5 linked regions of the Homo sapiens genome follow. The protein of the gene in region 5 purifies or fractionates together with the protein of the main gene of each other region. This does not show direct contact. Each region holds a gene or a part of one and is shown on either strand. Other genes may lie near its edges.

Region 1 (3,568 bases), on a different chromosome or scaffold from region 5:
ACTGAGGCCGGGTGCGGTGGCTCACGCCTGTAATCCCAGCACTTTGGGAGGCCGAGGCGAGCGGATCACCTGAGGTCAGGAGATCAAGACCAGCTTGGCCAACATGGCGAAGCCCCGTCTCTACTAAAAAAATACAAAAATTAGCCAGGCGTGGTGGCAGGTGCCTGTAATCCCAGCTACTAGGGAGGCTGAGGCAGGATAATTGCCTGAACCCGGTCAGAAGGTGGAGGTTGCAGTGAGCCGAGATCATGCCACTGCACTCCAGCCTGGGTGACAGAGCGAGACTGTGTCTCAAACAAACAAACAAAAAAACAAAAAAAAAGAAATACAGACTGAAAGCCCCAGCCTAGACTTGCTGAAACATAAGCTTTTTTTTTTTATATCAAGATCCCCAGGTGATCTGTGAGAATTACTCCCCTAGTATCTCATTTTATAGATGGGGAGACTGAGAGCCAGAGAGAGGAAGGGACTTCCTAGAGTGCTGGAGCTGACAGTCCTGTCCCTGCCCTGGTGCCCCTTCCAACTGCATTTTACCAGAAAGGCTGTCTGACTTCCTGGGGAGGCTGAGAGTGAGGAGGGTATGAACCACTAGAAGCAGATGATCTGTAGAGGGGTCTGCGTTGAGCACATTGTGCAGAATTGGTGTCCTCTGCAAAGCTGCCCAGGTTTTAGCCTGCCTCAGGCCTCTCCTCTTCTGGGGCCAAGGGACAACCAGCTCTCAGCCCGGGAGCCTCTCTTTGAGGGGGAAGGTGGTGGTTCCCTGGTGCATCACCATCAGGAGATGATGGTACCATCAGCAGGCATTGTCAACACACCCTGGAGGCAAATGTCTTGAGTGGTGAGAGTACAGGTGGGCAGTGATATAACTTAGCTGGCTCCCAGTACTCTTGAGTGGTGAGAGTATTGGAGGGCAGTGATATAACTTAGCTGGCTCCCAGAGGGCAGGGGGCTCTCCAGTCCCACCGTCCACTCCTGCCTCCCTCAATTCCCCAGAGGGATAGACACTTGTGGAGTGAGGATTCTTCCAGGTGGGAGACACCCCCATCATTCTCTTGGGAGTTGTATCTCTTGCCCATCCCCAACTGTTCTATCCATATGCAGGTGCAGATACAAGTGCAAGGCAGCCCGGCACATTCCTGAGTGTTTGGGGCAGGGCTGAGTGAAACAAAGGCCAGCTTCCCGGGCCAGCCCTCACAGGCCTGTGTGACAGCATCCCCAGAACATTTGAGTGTGCGAAGGCCCTCTGGGAGACACTAAGTCAGGGGGCTTCTGGGGAATGGAAATAGAGATGTTCCTGTGCCCCAGGAGTTGTCTGATTTCTCTAACTGCCAGCTGCTGGAGGGCAGGGATGTTGTCCTGTTCATCACTGGGTCGTCACTAGGCAGGCCTTCATCATCTAGCTGGGATGTGTAGCTGGTAGAGGTGACGTCATAGTGTGACATTAGGAGTTTGTATGTGACTTGAGCATGATGCTTAATGTCTTTCAGTTTTCTCATCTATAGAATGGGCTTACTAATTTCTACTTCATTTAGTGTTTTTTTTTCTTTTTTTTTTTGGTGGCAGGTTAAATGACTGAAGTAAGCACTGAATAAACAATGTGGTTGTTATTAAAGTAGATAGTGACTGTGCCATGGGACGGATGGGAGGCCGAGGCGATGGGGGCAGTGCTGTGAGTCCAGAAGAGGAAGAAATCCTGCCCAAGTGAAGTAGTCAGGGCAGACTTCTTGGAGGAGGTGTCTCCAAAGTCAGGCATTGAAGGAGGGCAGGAGGTGGTGGAGCAGGGGCCTTCCCTGGTGCAGAGGAGAAGGGTGGTGAGTGGGAGGTCTTGGGTGATCTGTGAGGAGCTGAGCCCGGCTGGTTGAGGTGAGGAGGTGGTGGGGTCGGCAGTGAGAAGGTCGCACAGTTGGCCCTGCAAGGCGGATGGAGCTGCTTTCTGTTGCCCAAGAGCATGACAGGGGCTGGTCAGGATCCACAGAGTTCTTTCTGCTTCATCGCCTTGTGCTCCTGCCCCTGGGAGCTGTGGATCCCAGATCCAGATGACAGCCCACCTTGCTGGCAGGATGCGCCAATCCCCTGGGCCTGAAGAATAACAGCATCCCTGACAAGCAGATCACGGCCTCCAGCAGCTACAAGACCTGGGGCTTGCATCTCTTCAGCTGGAACCCCTCCTATGCACGGCTGGACAAGCAGGGCAACTTCAACGCCTGGGTTGCGGGGAGCTACGGTAACGATCAGTGGCTGCAGGTGGGTCAGCCTTCTTGGGATATGGGGCTGGGGTTGGGTGGGATGAGGTGGGACTGCCAGATCTTTGACCTCTCTCCAGCCCAGGCTTCTCTTCTGCTCCCCAAAAGAGTTCTGGAAAAGCCTTGTTTTTCTTCGGCTTTTCTTTCTTCTTCCCACCTGTACTCCCTTCTCTTGATCCTGCTTCCACCAAGGTGGAGAAAGGGTGTGTGTGTGTATGTGTGTGTGTGTGTGAATGTGTGTGTGTGAGTGTGTGAATGTGTGTGAATGTGAGTGTGTGTGAATGCGTGCGTGTGAATGCGTGCGTGTGAATGTGTGTGTGAATGTGTATGTGTGAATGTGTGTGTGTGAATGTGTGAATGTGTGTGTGAATGTGTGAGAATGTGTGTGAATGTGTGTGTGAGAATGTGTGTGTGAATGTGTGTGTGTGAATGTGTATGTGTGAATGTGTATTTGTGAATGTGTGTGAATGTGTATGTGAATGTGTATGTGAATGTGTATGTGTGAATGTGTGTGAATATGTGTGTGTGAGAATGTGTGTGTGTGTGTGAATGTGTGTGTGTGAATGTGTGTGTGTGAATGTGTGTGTATGTGTGTACACAAGGGGAGAGCCATTCCATGGGCTGCCACAGGATTGACAAGGCTCAGCCTATGGACAGACAGCAGGGCGGAGGCGGAAGAGGGAGACATGACCCAGGCATCTTGGGACCTCTCCCTTGAGCACAGCATACATATTCTCTGACTCAGTGTCTAAGAAGCCACCATGTGACAGCCCTTGTCTGTCATTGAAACTAGGAAACAAAAGAGAGCCATGGAAAACCGGAGCTTGTTTTATAGATGAGGAAGCCGAGAGCTGGCAGGACGATGATCTGCCTAGTACCCACCTGCTGGCTGGCAGTGAGTTGGGTTTACACCTGGATGTTGGGGAACTGTGTGTCCAGGTGCAGCTGGCAGGTTCTCCAGGGAGGTCAGGGACCGGGGACAGGAGGTCTGTCTCAGGGCCCCATGGAGCACACTGCGGAGCTGGGTTCCCTGAGGAGCTGCCTGCCTGTGGACACCCTCAGGACCAGTGTCAGACTGTGGGCGGCGCCGCAGGGAGCCTCTAGAGCAGTTCATGCCCCTCCAGGCTGTGGCCTCTCCTGTCCTTCTTCCCATCACAGTGCAGTGCAGGTCTCAGGCAGGGGTGGTTGGCGTGGAGTTGGCCAGGGCCCAGACCCTATGAGCTTTATAGCAGTGAGGTACCGAACACCATGTGTGGCAAAGTAGGTGGTATTATTTATGCCCCCTCACCGCTTTTTTTTTTTTTTTTTCTGAGACAGAGCCTTGC
Region 2 (3,500 bases), on a different chromosome or scaffold from region 5:
GCAGGTATTCAGTACAGTAGTGTCCCCTTATCCACGGTTTTGCTTTCCACAGATTCAGTTACCAGTGGTCAACCATGGTCTGAAAATATTAAATGAAAAATTCCAGAAATAAACAACCTGTAAGTTTTAAATTATGCACTGAGTAGCAGATGATGAAATCACGGGCTCTGCTCTTTGGCCAGCACATCCACGCTGTAGATGATACCCACCTGTGAGTTAGCACCCATCTCAATGATCAGATTGACTGTCATGGTATCACAGTCCCTGTATTAAGTAACACTCATTTTACTTAATAAGGACCCCAAAGCACAAGAGTACTGATGCTGGCAATTCGGATATGCCAAATAGAAGCTATAAACTACCTCCTTTAAGTAAAAAGGTGAAATTTCTCAACTTAATTAGAAGAAAAATTGTATGCTGAGGTTGCTAAGATCTATGGTAAGAGCAACCTTCTATCTGTGAAATTACAAAGAAGGAAAAAGAAATTCATGCTAGTTTTGCTGTTGCTGATGTACCTCAAACTGCAAAAATTATGGCCACAGTGTGTGATAAGTGCTTTAGCTAAGATAGAAAAGGCATTATATTTGTGGGTGGAAGACACAAACAGAAATGTGTTCTGACTGATGGCAATCAGGTTTGGAACTATTTGAGATTTCAAGCATCCACTGTGGATCCTGGAATACATCTGCTTCAGGTAAGTGGAGACAACTGTATATGTTACTGAGACCAACACATGCACATGAGAGAGCTGACTGAACTGGGGTGGCCTGACTCCAGAGCCTGGTCTCCTCTGTCACACTGCTTTACCAAAGTAGAAAGAAAATGAACAAATTCCTTCAGGTAAAGCATCCCAAGAAAGGTTCCCAACAAGCTTCACAGGATTAGTGGATTTAGCAGGACCATAAAAACCTAAGGTTTAAGAACTCACCTTGATGGCCTGGAGTAAAGCCTCATTCTGATTCCTCTCCTTCTTTTCTTTCAAGTTGGCTTTCCTCACATCCCTCTGTTCAATTCGCTAAAAATGAAATTTAGATGCATCAGCTCTAGAGACCTGGCTTCCTCTTCTATTGCACTAGCCTGCTCCTAAATTATTATCTCTGGCCTCTATCCAACCCAAGCTCCTGTGTTAAGGAATACCAGTGGCCAGATTCAGTTCAATAAACATTTACAAAGTACATGCCTAGATGTCAGACCCAGTGGCAGCAGCAGTTTAAATTTACTTCCTGTATGTACCCAAGGAACTCACAGTCTACTGAGGGGTTGAGGGGTACAGACAAGTAAAGAGCCAGTATAACAGGTGGATTATGTACTACTCTGGTCGTGTGATCCGAGTGCTACGAAACATAGCCTGGGTGACAGAAACCCTGTCTCTATAGATTTTTTTTAAAAAGTATAACCACCCTAGTGGGTATGCAATGGTATCTTACTATGGTTTTGATTTGCATTTCCTAATTATTAATGATGTTGAACATCTTTTCATGTGCTTTTTGGCCATTTGTGTGTCTTTGGAGAAGTGTCTATTCACATCCTTTCCTCATTTAAAAAACTGAGTTACCTGTCTTATTGAGATGATAAGAGTTGTTTATATGTTGTAGATAAAAGTCCCTTATGACTTACCAATATTGTCTTCCATTCTGTGGGCTTTTTCACTTTTTTTTTTTTTTTTTTTTTTGTAGAGATGAGGTCTCACTTTGTTGCCCAGGTTGGTCTCGAATTCCTGGCCTCAAGTGGTCCTCCTGCCCTGGCCTCCCAAAATGCTAGGATTACAGGTGTGAGCCACTGCATCTGGCCCCTTTTCACTTTTTTCTTCACATTTATCTTTTCATTTTTTTGATGGTATCCTTTGAAGCAAAAAGTTTTTACTTTTGATGAAGTGCAATCAATCTACTTTTCCTTTTGTTGCTTGTGCTTTGTGTCATATCCAAGTTCATGAAGATTCATATCTATGTTTTCTTTTAAGAGTTGTATAGTCTTAGCTCTTACATTTGGGTATTTGATCTACTTTGGGTAACTTTTTTATATAGTATGAGGTAAAGTTCTAGCTTCATTCTCCCACATGTGAATATCCAGTTGTCCCACTATCCTTTGTTGAAAAGATTACCTCCCTATTGAATGGTCTTGGCACACTTGTTGAAAATAAATTCCCCATAAATGTGAGGGCTTATTTCTGAGCTCTAAATTTTATTACATTGACCTATATGTCTATTGTTATGCCAGTACCACAATGCCTTGATTACTGTAGCTCTGTCGTATGTTTTGAAATTGGGAAGTGTGAGTCTTCCAATTTTGTTTTTTTTTTTTTTTTGTCTTTCATGATTGTTGGTCATTCAGAGTCCCTTGAATTTCTATGTGAATATTATGATCAGCCTGTCCATTTCTGCAGAGAAGCCAATTGGACTTTTGATACAGATTGCACTGAAATTAGCCAGATGTGGCATCACATGCCTATAGTCCCAGTTGCTTGGGAGACTGAGGCAGGAGGGCTGCTTGAGCCCAGGAGTTTGAGGTTGCAGCGAGCCATGATCATACCACTGCACTCCAGCCTGAATATTAGAGCAAGTTCATGTCTCAAAAAAGAAAATTACACTGAATTGATACACTAATTTTGGGAGTATTGCCATCTAACAATATTAAGATCTAATCTATGAACATGGGATGTCTTCCTATTTACTTAGGTCTTCTTTAATTTCTTTCAACAATGTTTTTTGTATTTTTAGAGTATAAGTTTTAGCTACTTTTGTTAAATGTACTCATAAGTGTTTTTTGATGCTATTTAAAATGGAATTGTTTTCTTAAGTTCATTTTCAGAGTGTTCATTAAAAATCTATAGAATACAAATGATTTTTGTGTACTGGTGATGTTGTTTCCAACAAGCTTGCTGAACTTAGTTCCAAGAGTTTTTTAGTGGATCCCTTAGGATTTTCTATATACACGGTCAAGTTGTCTGCATATAGATGGTTTTACTACTACTTCTCTTCCACTCTTTCATTTTTGAAGAATAGATTTGCTAGATATAGAATTCTTACAGTCTTTTTCTTTTAGCTCTTTGAATATGTCATTTACCTGCCTTTTGGCCTTCATGGCTTCTGATGAGAAAGCTGTTAATTTTCCTTAGGATTTTTTGTACATAAAGAGTCATTTTTCTCTTGCTGCTTTTAAGGTTCTCTTCTTTGTTTTTCAACAGTTTAATTATAATGTGTTTAGGTAGAGATCACTTTAAGTTTATCCCACTTATAGTTTGTTAAACTTTTTGGATGTATACATCAGTGTTTTTCACCAAATTTGGGAAGTTTATGGCCAATATTTCCCCAAGTATTCTTTTGCCCATTCTCTCTCTTCTCTCCTTCTAGGACCCCCACTATGCCTTTGTTGGTATGCTTGATGGCATCATACAAGTCTCTCTTCATCCTTATTCTTTTCTCATTCTGTTCTTCAGACTGGATAATCTCAACTGATACATCTTAAGTGTGATGATTCTCATTACTGCCTGCTCAAATGCG
Region 3 (4,470 bases), about 31 Mb from region 5:
GGAAAAAAGCACCAAGAAAAATGTGAAAAAATGAAAGTCAAACCAGGTGAAATCATCTGCAACGTGATAGTCAACATCTAAAAATAAGTATATGTGTTAAGTCAATAAAAAAGCAAGAGCCAAGTCCCTGCAACCTGAGAGAATACACCAACCGGCATCAACACCAGCACAGATACTCACATCGGCAATCAAGGAAAGGCAAATTCAAATGAGATACAATTTCTCAGACAGGAAACACATTACAAAAACTGGCAACATAACCAGGACAGTTTTAGGGGGTGGAGAGAAGAGTACACTTTGGAAATGTAAATTGTTACAAACTTACTTTAGAGCAAATTTAGTCATCCTTCAAAAATTTAAATGTATACTTATTTCCTAAGAATTCGTTTGGCTCACACAATTGTGAAAAGATAGATGTACACCAGTGTTCATTACAACAATTATGCAACAAATCTATTATGTGCCAGACATTATTCGGAACTCTGGGAATACATAAGTGAACAAAGCAGATTCCTGATCTCAGGACCTGGGGTCAGGGGTCAGGAGAAGCCAAAAAACACGCTAGAGAAATACTTTATGCAGTGTGGGGGGAGTGCTACCAGCAGAGCAGGGGATGGAGATGTGAAATCTTGTGTGCAGCGTTGGGCTCAGTGAGGGAGTTCCCCACACAGGTATCTGAGGGAAGACTGTTCCAGGCAGAGGGTATCACTAGCAAAAGCAGCGAGCAAGGGGCAAAGAAACAGTAAATTTGGTCAAAGAAGAAAAGGGGCCAGAGTAAAACAAAAAGTAAGCCAAATATTCATCAGCAGGAAACTGGACAAGTTAGAGTATATTCATATGGTGGAATGCTGTGCATCCAGGAAGAATTAGGATACAGTATATATATGAGGATGCTTCCAAATATTTTTAAATAGAAAAATCAAATGGCAGAATAGTATTACTATGTGATTTCATTCTGCAAAACCAAAAACATAAGCTATGTTCTAGAAGGATATATACTTAACAGTTGTTCTTTCTGTGGGTAATTACAGAAATTCTTTTTTTTTTTTCTTGAGACGGAGTCTTGCTCTGTCACCCAGGCTGGACTGCAAACAACCTCTGCCTCCTGGGTTGAAGCGATTCTTTTGCTTCAGCCTCCTGAGTGGCTGGGACTACAGATGCCCGCCACCACGCCCGGCTAACTTTTGTAATTTTTTAGAGACGGAGTTTTGCCATGTTGGCCAGGCTGGTCTCGACCTCCTGACCTCTGGTGATGTGCCTGCCTCAGCCTTCCAAAGTGCAGGGATTACAGGCGTGAGCCACCACACTCGGCCTAGAAACTCTTTTATTTTAAAAAATATATGTATATTATATTTATATATATATAATATATAAAAATGTATATATAATATGTATATAAATATAATGTATAAATATAATATTTATATATATTTATAAATATATTTATATATTATATTTATAATATATATTATATATATAATATATATAATAAATATATGTACAATTATATATATTATATATAATATATATAATATATATTATAGATATATTAAATATATATATTTTTATATATATTATATATTTATTATATATATTATATATAAATAATATAAATATAATATGTATTATATATAAATAATATAAATATAATATATATAAACAATATAAATATATTACATATAAATAATATAATATATATAATATATTATATAAATAATATAAATATAATATATATTACATATGTAATATAAATAATATAGATATAATATATATGTAATATATATTATATATATTTATTAATTATATATTATATATATAAAATATATATATATATTTTTTTAGAGACAGCGTATTGCTATGTTGCTGAGGTTGGCCTCCAACTTCTGGGCTCAAGTGATCCTCCTGCCTGAACCCCCTGCTGTATCCCCCTACCCTGCCCCAGCAACTGTGATTACACGCACAGATCGGTATGTTCATTTAGGGATTTGTATTTTTATGCACGTACCGGTATGTTCAGTTAGGGATTTGTATTTTTAGAGTTTAGCATATATAAACTATTTGGACTTTCTTAAGGAGCATATAATCAGAACAAAGTAAGCAATTTAAAAATATATAGCAGAGAATCAATAAAGAGGCTTTACAGACATACACGGAAGAGGCACTAAAACTGGGACACCACAGGAGCTGCTGGCGGGTGAGAGGCGCTTCGCTGGCTGACAACTGCTATGTTTCCAAACAGAACAGAGAACCAGTCTACTTAGATACATCCTTGTATGGGTCATTTGCAGTAAAGAATTTAGGTAAAATAACAAACTTCATGGAGAGATCACATTTCTATATTTGAGTCATTTAACTCCCATGGAAGGTACTTGTGTGTAACCAACTGCTACTCATCGAGGGCATTTTAAATATAAGGAGAATTTAAAGAATAGAAATTTGATACCTTCATGAAGGCAAAAATTAAAATTTGTAACCATCAGGTTCTCCTTGAAAACCACCACTAAAATGCAGGAAAAATTCTCCCGCCCTGCCTCCCGACACCTGAGCAGACTGAGCGTGGGAACACACTCCTTTCTTCATCCCCATGCCCCCGAGTCGCACCCAGAGGGAGGGCAGGACGCCAGCCTCACTCACCCTTTTCTTCAGCCGCTCCCGTTCCTTCAGGGTGAGAGTGTCAGCTTTTGCAATGACAGGCACAATATTCACCTTGTTGTGTATTGCCTTCATAAACGCCACATCTAAGGGCTTAAGTCTAAAATTAATTTTAGAATTGTCACTTATTTAAAAAAAATACATACAAAACTCTTCTCTCTCAAATTATCTTAATTCTTATATTAAAATACACAGTTTGGGTAAAACTTACAAACCCATGTAGTAAAGCATTTCTCCACGATAAACAATTACTTACCCATGTCCAAAAGGTGAAATAAAGTAAAAGCAACAATGCACCCTATTATCAATGATGTGCCGCCTGTTCAAGCCGCTCTCGTCATGCAGGTACCTCTCAAATTGCTCATCAATATAGGAGATAATTGTCTTAAAACTGAGAGAAACAGAAACATTAACAATAATCATAGGGTATAAAACAGGGGGTCCCTGACTTCAAAGGGAAAACAAGTGCCTCCGCCCAAATATACATAATTTAATAATTCATTTTCAAGATGAGAACAGAAGACTGACTTTTAGATTTGGCAAATGGAAGTTTTTGGAAACTATGCCAAGCATAACTGCCCCTAAGTGCTGAGAGTCAAAAGCCTGAATGGAATAGGTTATGATGCACCTGAGAGAGGGCCAGTGTAGACAGGGCTGCCAATTCGTTCTTTTTTTTTTTGAGACTGAGTCTTGCACTGTTGCCCAGGCTGGAGTGCAGTGGCGTGATCTCGGCTCACTGCAACCTCTGCTTCCAGGGTTCAAGCGATTCTCCTGCCTCAGCCTCCCAAGTAGCTGGGATTATAGGCACACGCCACCACGCCCGGCTAATTTTTGTATTTTTAGTAGAGACAGGGTTTCACCATGTTGGCCAGGCTGGTCTCGAACTCCTGACCTTGTGATCAGCCCACCTCAGCCTCCCAAAGTGCTGGGATTACAGGCATGAGCCATCGCACCCAGCCAGGGCTGCCAATTCTTTTCAGGAACGTGACTGTGAAAAGGGGCAGAGGAACAGGGTGGTAGAGAACATGGGTCAAGAACAGGTTTATCTGAGCTGGGAAACAGCATTTAACTGAGCTGGGAAACAGTACAGCACTTTCACATGTAAGAAGGGAGAAATTCCTAAATGTAGGAGAAAGATAACAGAACCTTCCCCTTTTCATCTAGTGGTGGAAACCTGATGCTTTATGTTGACAGGAATAGAACCAGGAGGGAGTTTGTACAACAAAAGTGGCATTCTTTGCACGGTACAGGTGACAGACTGCTCTATCTTCTACTTCTTCATTTCCTTATTTGTGAAAATGATGCCAATGAGCAGTCATTTACAGACACTACGACTCAACCCACTCTCTAACAGGTTTCACTTCCTTCCACATAGAAAGGATGTACTACAGTATCTCGGTCACCAACCACGGCTCAAATCCAGGTGTTTCATTTATACTAGCAGTCTATGGATGACTGGCTTTGCGATCTCAAATTACAGTAGAGTACCAGAAAAAAATTACTCTCTATAAAATTCCTTATTTAAAAAGTCAACATTTAACACGCTTTAAATTGTCTAGGTGTTTTATTATATACAGCAATCCCAAACTTAATAATCACTCATTAACACTATCTATAAATTTATGAAGTATATTAAGTAAACAAATGCAGATCCCTGGGCATGGGGGAGCATACCAATCTCTGCAGTTGATAGCGTCACCATAGCCAGGGGTATCTACCACTGTCAGGCGTAGCTTGACCCCTCGCTCTTCAATTTCAACAGTTGAAGCCTCAATCTGGACAGTTCTTTCAATTTTTTCTAGAAAAGAAACAAACTTA
Region 4 (2,661 bases), on a different chromosome or scaffold from region 5:
TGTCTCTACTGTCCCCTCCCCAACAGACTTCCCTCCCTACTTTCTGAAAGCAAGGAGGAAAGGAGGGAGCTTTCCCTTCAGAAAGGAGATTTTGATCAGAGTGTAGAATCTACAATACCTAAGGAGTTATGGCTTAAGCACCTTTGATATCACCACCCAAGGCTCAGGAAAAGAACCTGCAGGAACTGTGTGTAAAACGGGTGGGGTAGAAATTAGAGTGGCTTCTCTTCTCAGCTTTAGTCTTCAGAGTGGCCGATAAAAACAGAATAGAAACCTAAGCATTCCTTCCTCCTCTCTGTCCCCCGGGGGAAGGAAGAGAGAATAAATGCCACATCTCATTAAGCTTTTACGATCTCAGGCAGGCAGAGTAGGACCACACCGGAGGCAGGCAGAGGGCTGGGGGAGGCTGCAGGAAGGATTCCCCAGTTCTCTCAGGGAGCTGTGTTCCAGAACTTAAAGGCCGGCTCTACAGAAAATGAAATAAGGGTTAACAACAGATGTGGGAGTAACAGCTGCTTTTATTAACATCAGAAGGGCAACAGTACAGGAAGTTGGGTAGATGTGGGGACAACAGAGAGACTGTGGCAGAGGCAGGACTGCAGATCTATGGAAATTGCCTGGAAGAGTCAGCTGTAAGGGATGAGAATCCTGAGGGTAAAAGAGAAAAGGGAAAGACTCCTCTTTGATCTTATGAAGCTGAAATAACAAGATCTTAAACATGAGTGAGAATCTGTTGCCCCAACCTAAGGTGACTTTAAATCCAAGGTAAAAAACACGGCATGGGTATTAGTTTGAATAGGGAAAATGAGAACTCTCTTTGAGCTCAAAAAAAAAAAAAAAAAAAAAAAAATGAAAGCGTTAAAACCCTGATTAAGTCTGCACAATGATCCAGAGTGTAAGGATGGGAGAAAGAATAAATACCCTAGTGACCCACATATTAAACAGACCACAGACAAGAGAACAAGACTTGAAGCTAATGGAAGGTCATCTTGCCCATGCCGCCATGGGGGGCAACAGTGCCACAATGCCACATGGGCACTAACACACACTGCATCCCCCCAGTCCCTGCCCAGGTTGGAGGGTGTGCAGATCACAGCAGCAGAGCTGCCTAGACTCAGGAAGGGCAGGAACACCCACTGCTGATGCAGTGGGAGGTAGGGATGGGGAGCCTGGCCCTGGCTTTGTGGGAGTGCAGAGAGAAGGAAGGCAGAGGGGAAATCAAGCCGCTGGGGCAGTGCTTGTAATATTGGGGTGACTGTGGGAGGGCAGTAGCAGACACAAGAGTAATGGCTTTCCCAGGTCAAGGTCCATGTCCTACCATCTGGCAGGAAAGCCAGGGGTTTGTCATGCATGATAAAAGCCACACAGCTGGACTCTGGGCAAGGCCCACTTTAGCCAATTAGAAGATACACTGTCTGTGGCCAGGCAGGCAAGCTCCTCCCAGCTGGGGAAGGGGTGAGAATCCCTGGGCCTTGCCCAGTCCTGAGCTCTAGGTGTCTGCAGGGAAGCACAGTGGTGAGTTAGTGTTAAAGAAAGCATCCAGAGAGGTAAGAGGGGCTTGGGTAGCACCCTTTGCCTCTGTCACTTCCGCAAAAACTTCTTGTTGAGGAGGAAGATGAGAAGGTTGACATTGACTTTGGCCTTGTTGAAGAGTTTCATGACAGCCACACCCTCATACTGGAGCTGCAGGAGATCCTAGGAGGGAAGAGGCAGGGAGGGGAGTTTAAGGGCTTCTGAATGTGGTCCAGTCAGATGGTGTACAAAACACTCACATCATGGGGCCTTCTGCAGTCACCAGTGGCACTGGCCACTGAAGTAGGGCATTGAAATCCCACTTCACAAATGAGGAAACTGAGGCAAGAGAGGTACAGTGACTTGATCAAATGTCAACTCAAGCAGAACCAGGGCTTGAAATTGTTTTTCTTATTTTATTTATTTATTTTTTTGAGACGGAGTCTCACTCGGTCTCCCAGGCTACAGTGCAGTGGCGCGATCTCGGATCGCTGCAATCTCCGCCTCCCAGGTTCAAGCGATTTTCCTGCTTCAGCCTCCTGAGTAGCTGGGATTACAGGCAGGTGCCACCACGCCAGGCTAATTTTTGTATTTTTAGTAGAGACAGGGTTTCACTATATTGGCCAGGCTGGTCTTGAACTGCTGACCTCGTGATCCGCCCGCCTCGGCCTCCCAAAGTGCTGGGATTACAGGCGTGAGCCACTGCACCCGGCCAAAATCATTTTTCTTACTCAAAAGGTAAAACATCAGAGCAAAAAGATTTGGATTAAAAACTACTGCTCGGCTGGGCATGGTGACTCATGCCTGTAAATCCCAGCATTTTGGGAGGCTGAGGCGGGCGGATCACAAGGTCAGCAGTTCAAGACCAGCCTGACCAACATGGTGAAACCCCATCTCTACTAAAAATACACAAAAAGCCGGTGTGGTGGCGCACGCCTGTAATCCCAGCTACTCAGGAAGCTGAGGCAGGAGAATCGCTTGAACCCAGGAGGCAGAGGTTGCAGTGAGCTGAGATTGCGCCATTGCACTCCAGCCTGGGTGACGGAGTAAGGCTCCGTCTCAAGAAAACAAACAAACAAAAACCCAAAAAAGCAACAACAACAACCACAACCAAAAACACCGTTGCTTCACTCCTTTCCTGAACACTGG
Region 5 (4,971 bases):
CTTCAGAGAGTATCATAAAATTTGTGTCAGAACAATTGAAGAAATGTTGTAAACTAATAACTAACAAACCAGGAAATCAGATTGGAAAGCACATTTAAGCAGTTGATAAAACTAATTAATTATATTCAAGATTATTCAAGATTTATGGGGGAATCAAATATATGGCTATTAAATGTAGTATATTACAATATGAAACATAGATATTAGCTGGGAATACTATGGAGAAATTAAATTTTACCATGGCTATGACTATAGTACTACACAAAGGCAGTTATGATTAAACTACAGCATTACTCAAAGTCTAGAGGACAGCTAAGTTTCTAATCTTTTTTGATTTATGAAAGAAAGTTTATAATCCAATTAAGTTTTGTTCTTTATTGAATTTTCAGAAAGTTAATGAATACATATAACAGCTCTATTAATTTCTTTAAAGTTCATTTTCTCTGCTTGAAAAAATTGTATAGCTTTTATGAGGTAATATATCTAGAAACATTATTAAGTGATTAAAAACATCATAATATAAAATGTTTTAATGTATGTTTTAATTAGGCCTGTTACCTCCTGGGATAAAATTAAAGTTTATAAAATTCTTGAGTTGTATCACTTTCTTTGGCCATGCTAGAATACATCTAAATATGCACTGATTTATTTCATATTAATGAATGCAAAGCATTGAAGATATTTACATTTCTTTACAAAAGTGTGTTAGTTTCCATTTGTTTCTCTTTTTTTTCTCTGTTGCAAATGGGCCTTCTGGATGGAAGATAAAGGTTATTTTTTTTCCTGTTTCTTCCAGATTCATTTAACTTCTTTTTGATTTGTGTCCCTTACTAGAATCCATCACATCTCTTGTTCTGCAATGAAATAATAAAGATGGAGCATACCCAATTCTCATAGAGACACTCCAGGGGTATTTCCTTCTTTTGCTTAGTTGTATAAGCTTATATTGTATCCTCACAATATTACACAATATTAAGCTTGTACAACTCAATTTAACATATTGACAGACGAATGTCAATATGTCAATTTAACATATTGACAGAATAATAAACAAATTTTCAAGATTCTGAAAAGTGTTGCTTCTCTGCTGACTATGAACAAGTAATTGGCTTAATTTCTGGATTAGAAAAGAGATGTTTTGTCTTTTCTTGGAGATCTCTCACCTGCCAAACAATTTTTATTTATGTACTCATTCTTACACAGTTCCTCAGGGAAGAAAATTAATGCCTGTTTTCATTAGTTAGATACTTCATTTGCTTCTTAGGTAAAGAGGTACATTTTCTTTTCTTTACAGAAGTTTGTAATACCAGATACAAACAGGTAACATTGTCTTATAAATCACAATAAATAAAGGACTAGCTTTGACACTGATTCATATCTCTTATGTTACTACAGAGTGCAGAGTTAAAGATGAGGGACAATCAGAATTACTATCATGGCTATGATCTCACTTATTGTGTAATGTAGACAGTATGCATCTATAAAGGATACATTAACTAGGATTGCTGGAGATGAAAAATTTGGTTTCCTCTTAAAGAACTGTATGCATGCAGTCCTCAAGTTAGAAAAACATTTATCAGAAGACCTGACATGCATTTTTTTGTCCTCCTAAATGGATATCCATTAAGAATAGTTCTTAATATTATATTCCATGACCAATTTTTTTCAAATACTTCAAATACCTACAAACTAAAGATTAAATATTCGTGATAATTTACTTATACTTTAAACAAAATTTCATGTTTAATTGGAATGTTATATAAATTATAAATATATTTAACTTCATTACATAATGTCTAAGGGTGATCTAACTAAATATTTTTGGGACTTAAAAAATTCTATAGTTATATTAAATGGTCAATGAAATGTTTGTTTATGGGTCAGCATCATAGTTACAAGTAAACAATGGTAAATTGGCAAAATTGAGATTTATTACATATACAACTTTTGGCTTAAGTGAAAAGTTCACCTCATGGGTACTATTGCTCATTGATTTTCCATATAAGGCAGGTTTCCTTAGATAAAAATTTTCAAGTTGTAATATGAGCCAATCAGAACTCAGTGAATGAAGAGAAGGTGCACATTTAATGAGTCACATCACTGGAAGTTAACAGACGTACCTATTTTTCCAAAAGCAGATAATCTTTTGGCAATTGAGAACTTTGATCACAGCAAAGTGTTAACACAATAATTAATCACATTTTTCTTAGTCCAAGATCAGTAGGCAAATACTCTAAGACATAAGCTAAAAGCCATGTAAATAACAAATTTTATAATTATTTTTGTTAGTTTCATTTAGAAGAAACTCACAAATTCTGAATTAAATACTGTGTATAAATAAACAAGATGACAGTTACAGTCACTGAAACACTTGAGTGCATAATTTTCTGCACTGAGATCTCATTTAGTGTTGTATCAAATTTTATTAGGCAAAGCTGAAGGGAGAATTAACTTGAATTGCAAAAAATCTTCTTTTTCAGAAGAAGGAAAGTAACTGTCAAATACATAAAGGACAACCGGGCCATCAGCTGTTTTTAAACTTCTGGAAATAAGTAGGGGCTAAAACGTTCCTTTTGATGTAATTTGTAAGTAAGGGATCTGGTTTCCAGAGAGATTTTATTTAAACCCAAACACTGGTTTAAATATTCTTAAATGCAACACTGTTAAGCATATATACTTTTCTCCTAAACAGTATAAGTGCAATTTAGGAGAAAATGGAAACTTGAGAATAAAAAATAGAGCAAGCACAGGCTTCACATATGATACCATACTCTAATAATTTTTGAAATTATATGCTGGCATTCATTTTTTAAAGCAGGATTCTCTTCTTCATAATCTACCAGCTCACTAAATAATGCTATTCCTCTCAATGAAAAATACACGCCTTTGCAAGTTCCTAGAGATCCTTACTATTGAAAGATGTTTCAGTGACCAAACAGTTCATCCATTTAGTTACCTTAATGGCAGAGAGGTCAATTTTTTCTTCTTTGGGTTTGGCTGGGGCAGGGGCAGGTGCAGGTGCCGGTGCCGGGGCTGGGGCAGCCGCAGCCGCAGCCACAGGTTTCTTCACGTCTTTCTTTGGTGCCATTTTTTTTTTTAAAAGGGTGGGTTAAAAAGAGAAGGAGTTCCTCCAAAAGAACCTGTCAAAATGATTCTTGGAAGAGGAGTGGTGGTTGGGTTGATCCACAGCCCAGTGTCTTGAAGATGGACCCAGAGTGTTAAACGGCATAAGGGCATGCATATATATTTCACTTAGTGCCTAATAGAATCTTGACACATGCGGCTGGATTGGACAGTTCTCTAGTCAAGGGGGATGGCATTCCGGCTCAGACTATAAATGGAATCTAAAGGGTCAGGGCTTCATCAATTTTTTTTAACTCTCTTTCCTTTTTTTCTCCCCCCCCCACCTCCATATATAAAGGAGAAAGATATATGACAAAGCCAGCTTCAGATCCTTTGGTGACAGTGAGGTAGATTGACTGTACTTTTTCTTGGTAGAATTACAGTTCTGCTGAAGTTGTAAATCTTTTTTTCCCACCTTGCCTAAGAGACTTTACTGAAGGATTCCATTTCAACTTGGAATTTTGGCAGGGAGTATCACCAACTTTCACACAGCTCCTTTGCTCATGCTCCTCCCCCCTTGCCATAATTTGCAAGGAAATGTTGGTCAGCAAAGAGGTGGTGGTGGTTAAAAATAAAAAAGCAGACGTATAAGGAAAGCCCATCATGTCTTAAAGTGGCTTCCCTTCTAGGGAGCACAGACTCTGGCACTCTTTCTCTCCTTTAATTGTAGTGAATTCTATGCCAAAAAACTTCAACATGACTTCCTATAATTTAATTTTCTTTGTATAATTTAATGAAGCATATCAAATGGATGGAAATGACAGCAAGATTTACCTTCTTGCAAAACAACTTTTCTAATAGTAAAGTAGCTTCCAAGAAAAGTAGATACTTATAGATATTTATTTTCTAAATGGTGTAAAGTCTAATTATTTATCACATAAATCTTTTGTCCATACTAGAGAGACAAAATACATTTTTAGAGACATAAAGAGAGAGAAGAACTTTAATTATCAACACTGTGCAAGTTGTGGTAACTTGAAAGTTTTTCCTTTTCTGTCCTTGGTTTCCTCAGTTTGCAAGGCTAGACTCATATCGAGAAATTTAAGACCACCAATGGGCACTTTATAACTTTGTATGTGGTAAATTCTGCCAGAGAGGGGGTTACAATTAGTAATCAGTTATTTCTCAGTCCCACTCTCATCTCTGTTGTTTTAACTTGTGAGATATTTAATTAATGAGTAGTTATTAACCAGTTTAAAAAAATAGTTTGGGTTTTAAAAGAGCACATTTATACATTTTATATATATAAAGGATATATATACAAACACACATATGTTTACTGTATGTGTATATATACATATATACATTTACTGTATGTGTGTATATATACATCCATACATGTGTACAAATGTATGTGTAAATACACACATATTCTAATTGTTAAATATAGTTGTGTTTAAAGATACAGATTAATTAGCCACTTTCTTGGGTCTGATATAAAAGCATTCACCAACTTGGAGAAGGTCACTATTTCTGTCCATATATTACAACTAAGCAAGATTAAGACTCTCAGATCAGAAATAATTCACCTAAGTTACAATTGACCCACAGTTAATCAGTCTCCTTTTTCACATGGTGGCACGATCTACTGAATTATATTATCCATGTATATTACAGGAAAAACATTTTGATAGCTCCCTCCTTTGTTTCCCCATATCAAGGACTCAATCATTATCTAAATTTAGCTGCTGATACTCATTTTTTACATACAGGACAGTCAGAAGAATCTGAACATATTTTACCTAGAATACTGTCTCATATTTAAATAATCAGGATAGATTTTTAAAATAATGCTATGTTTATAACAGAAATACCTTCATAAATAGCAGAAATTTGTTCACCAGTTTT

Evidence for each region.
Region 1: the proteins of MYL1 (region 5) and MFGE8 purify together in Homo sapiens (co-immunoprecipitation; one large-scale study listed by IntAct). This does not show direct contact.
Region 2: the proteins of MYL1 (region 5) and TTC4 purify together in Homo sapiens (co-immunoprecipitation; one large-scale study listed by IntAct). This does not show direct contact.
Region 3: the proteins of MYL1 (region 5) and SEPTIN2 fractionate together in Homo sapiens (co-fractionation; one large-scale study listed by BioGRID). This does not show direct contact.
Region 4: the proteins of MYL1 (region 5) and IQGAP3 purify together in Homo sapiens (co-immunoprecipitation; one large-scale study listed by IntAct). This does not show direct contact.

Annotation. Positions count from the first base shown.
Region 1 is NC_000015.10:88,900,227-88,903,794, reverse strand, and holds part of MFGE8 (lactadherin isoform a preproprotein), read left to right. Parts: exon of another isoform or gene 1-1,612; intron 1,613-2,059; coding exon 2,060-2,244; intron 2,245-3,036; exon of another isoform or gene 3,037-3,138; intron 3,139-3,568.
Region 2 is NC_000001.11:54,725,861-54,729,360, reverse strand, and holds part of TTC4 (tetratricopeptide repeat protein 4), read right to left. Parts: intron 1,016-3,500; coding exon 929-1,015; intron 1-928.
Region 3 is NC_000002.12:241,335,955-241,340,424, reverse strand, and holds part of SEPTIN2 (septin-2), read right to left. Parts: intron 4,467-4,470; exon of another isoform or gene 4,451-4,466; coding exon 4,327-4,450; intron 3,044-4,326; coding exon 2,909-3,043; intron 2,753-2,908; coding exon 2,635-2,752; intron 1-2,634.
Region 4 is NC_000001.11:156,524,905-156,527,565, forward strand, and holds the end of IQGAP3 (ras GTPase-activating-like protein IQGAP3), read right to left. Parts: intron 1,696-2,661; coding exon 1,582-1,695; 3' UTR 501-1,581; downstream 1-500.
Region 5 is NC_000002.12:210,311,955-210,316,925, forward strand, and holds the start of MYL1 (myosin light chain 1/3, skeletal muscle isoform), read right to left. Parts: upstream 3,221-4,971; 5' UTR 3,089-3,220; coding exon 2,957-3,088; intron 1-2,956. UniProt on the Homo sapiens protein: Non-regulatory myosin light chain required for proper formation and/or maintenance of myofibers, and thus appropriate muscle function.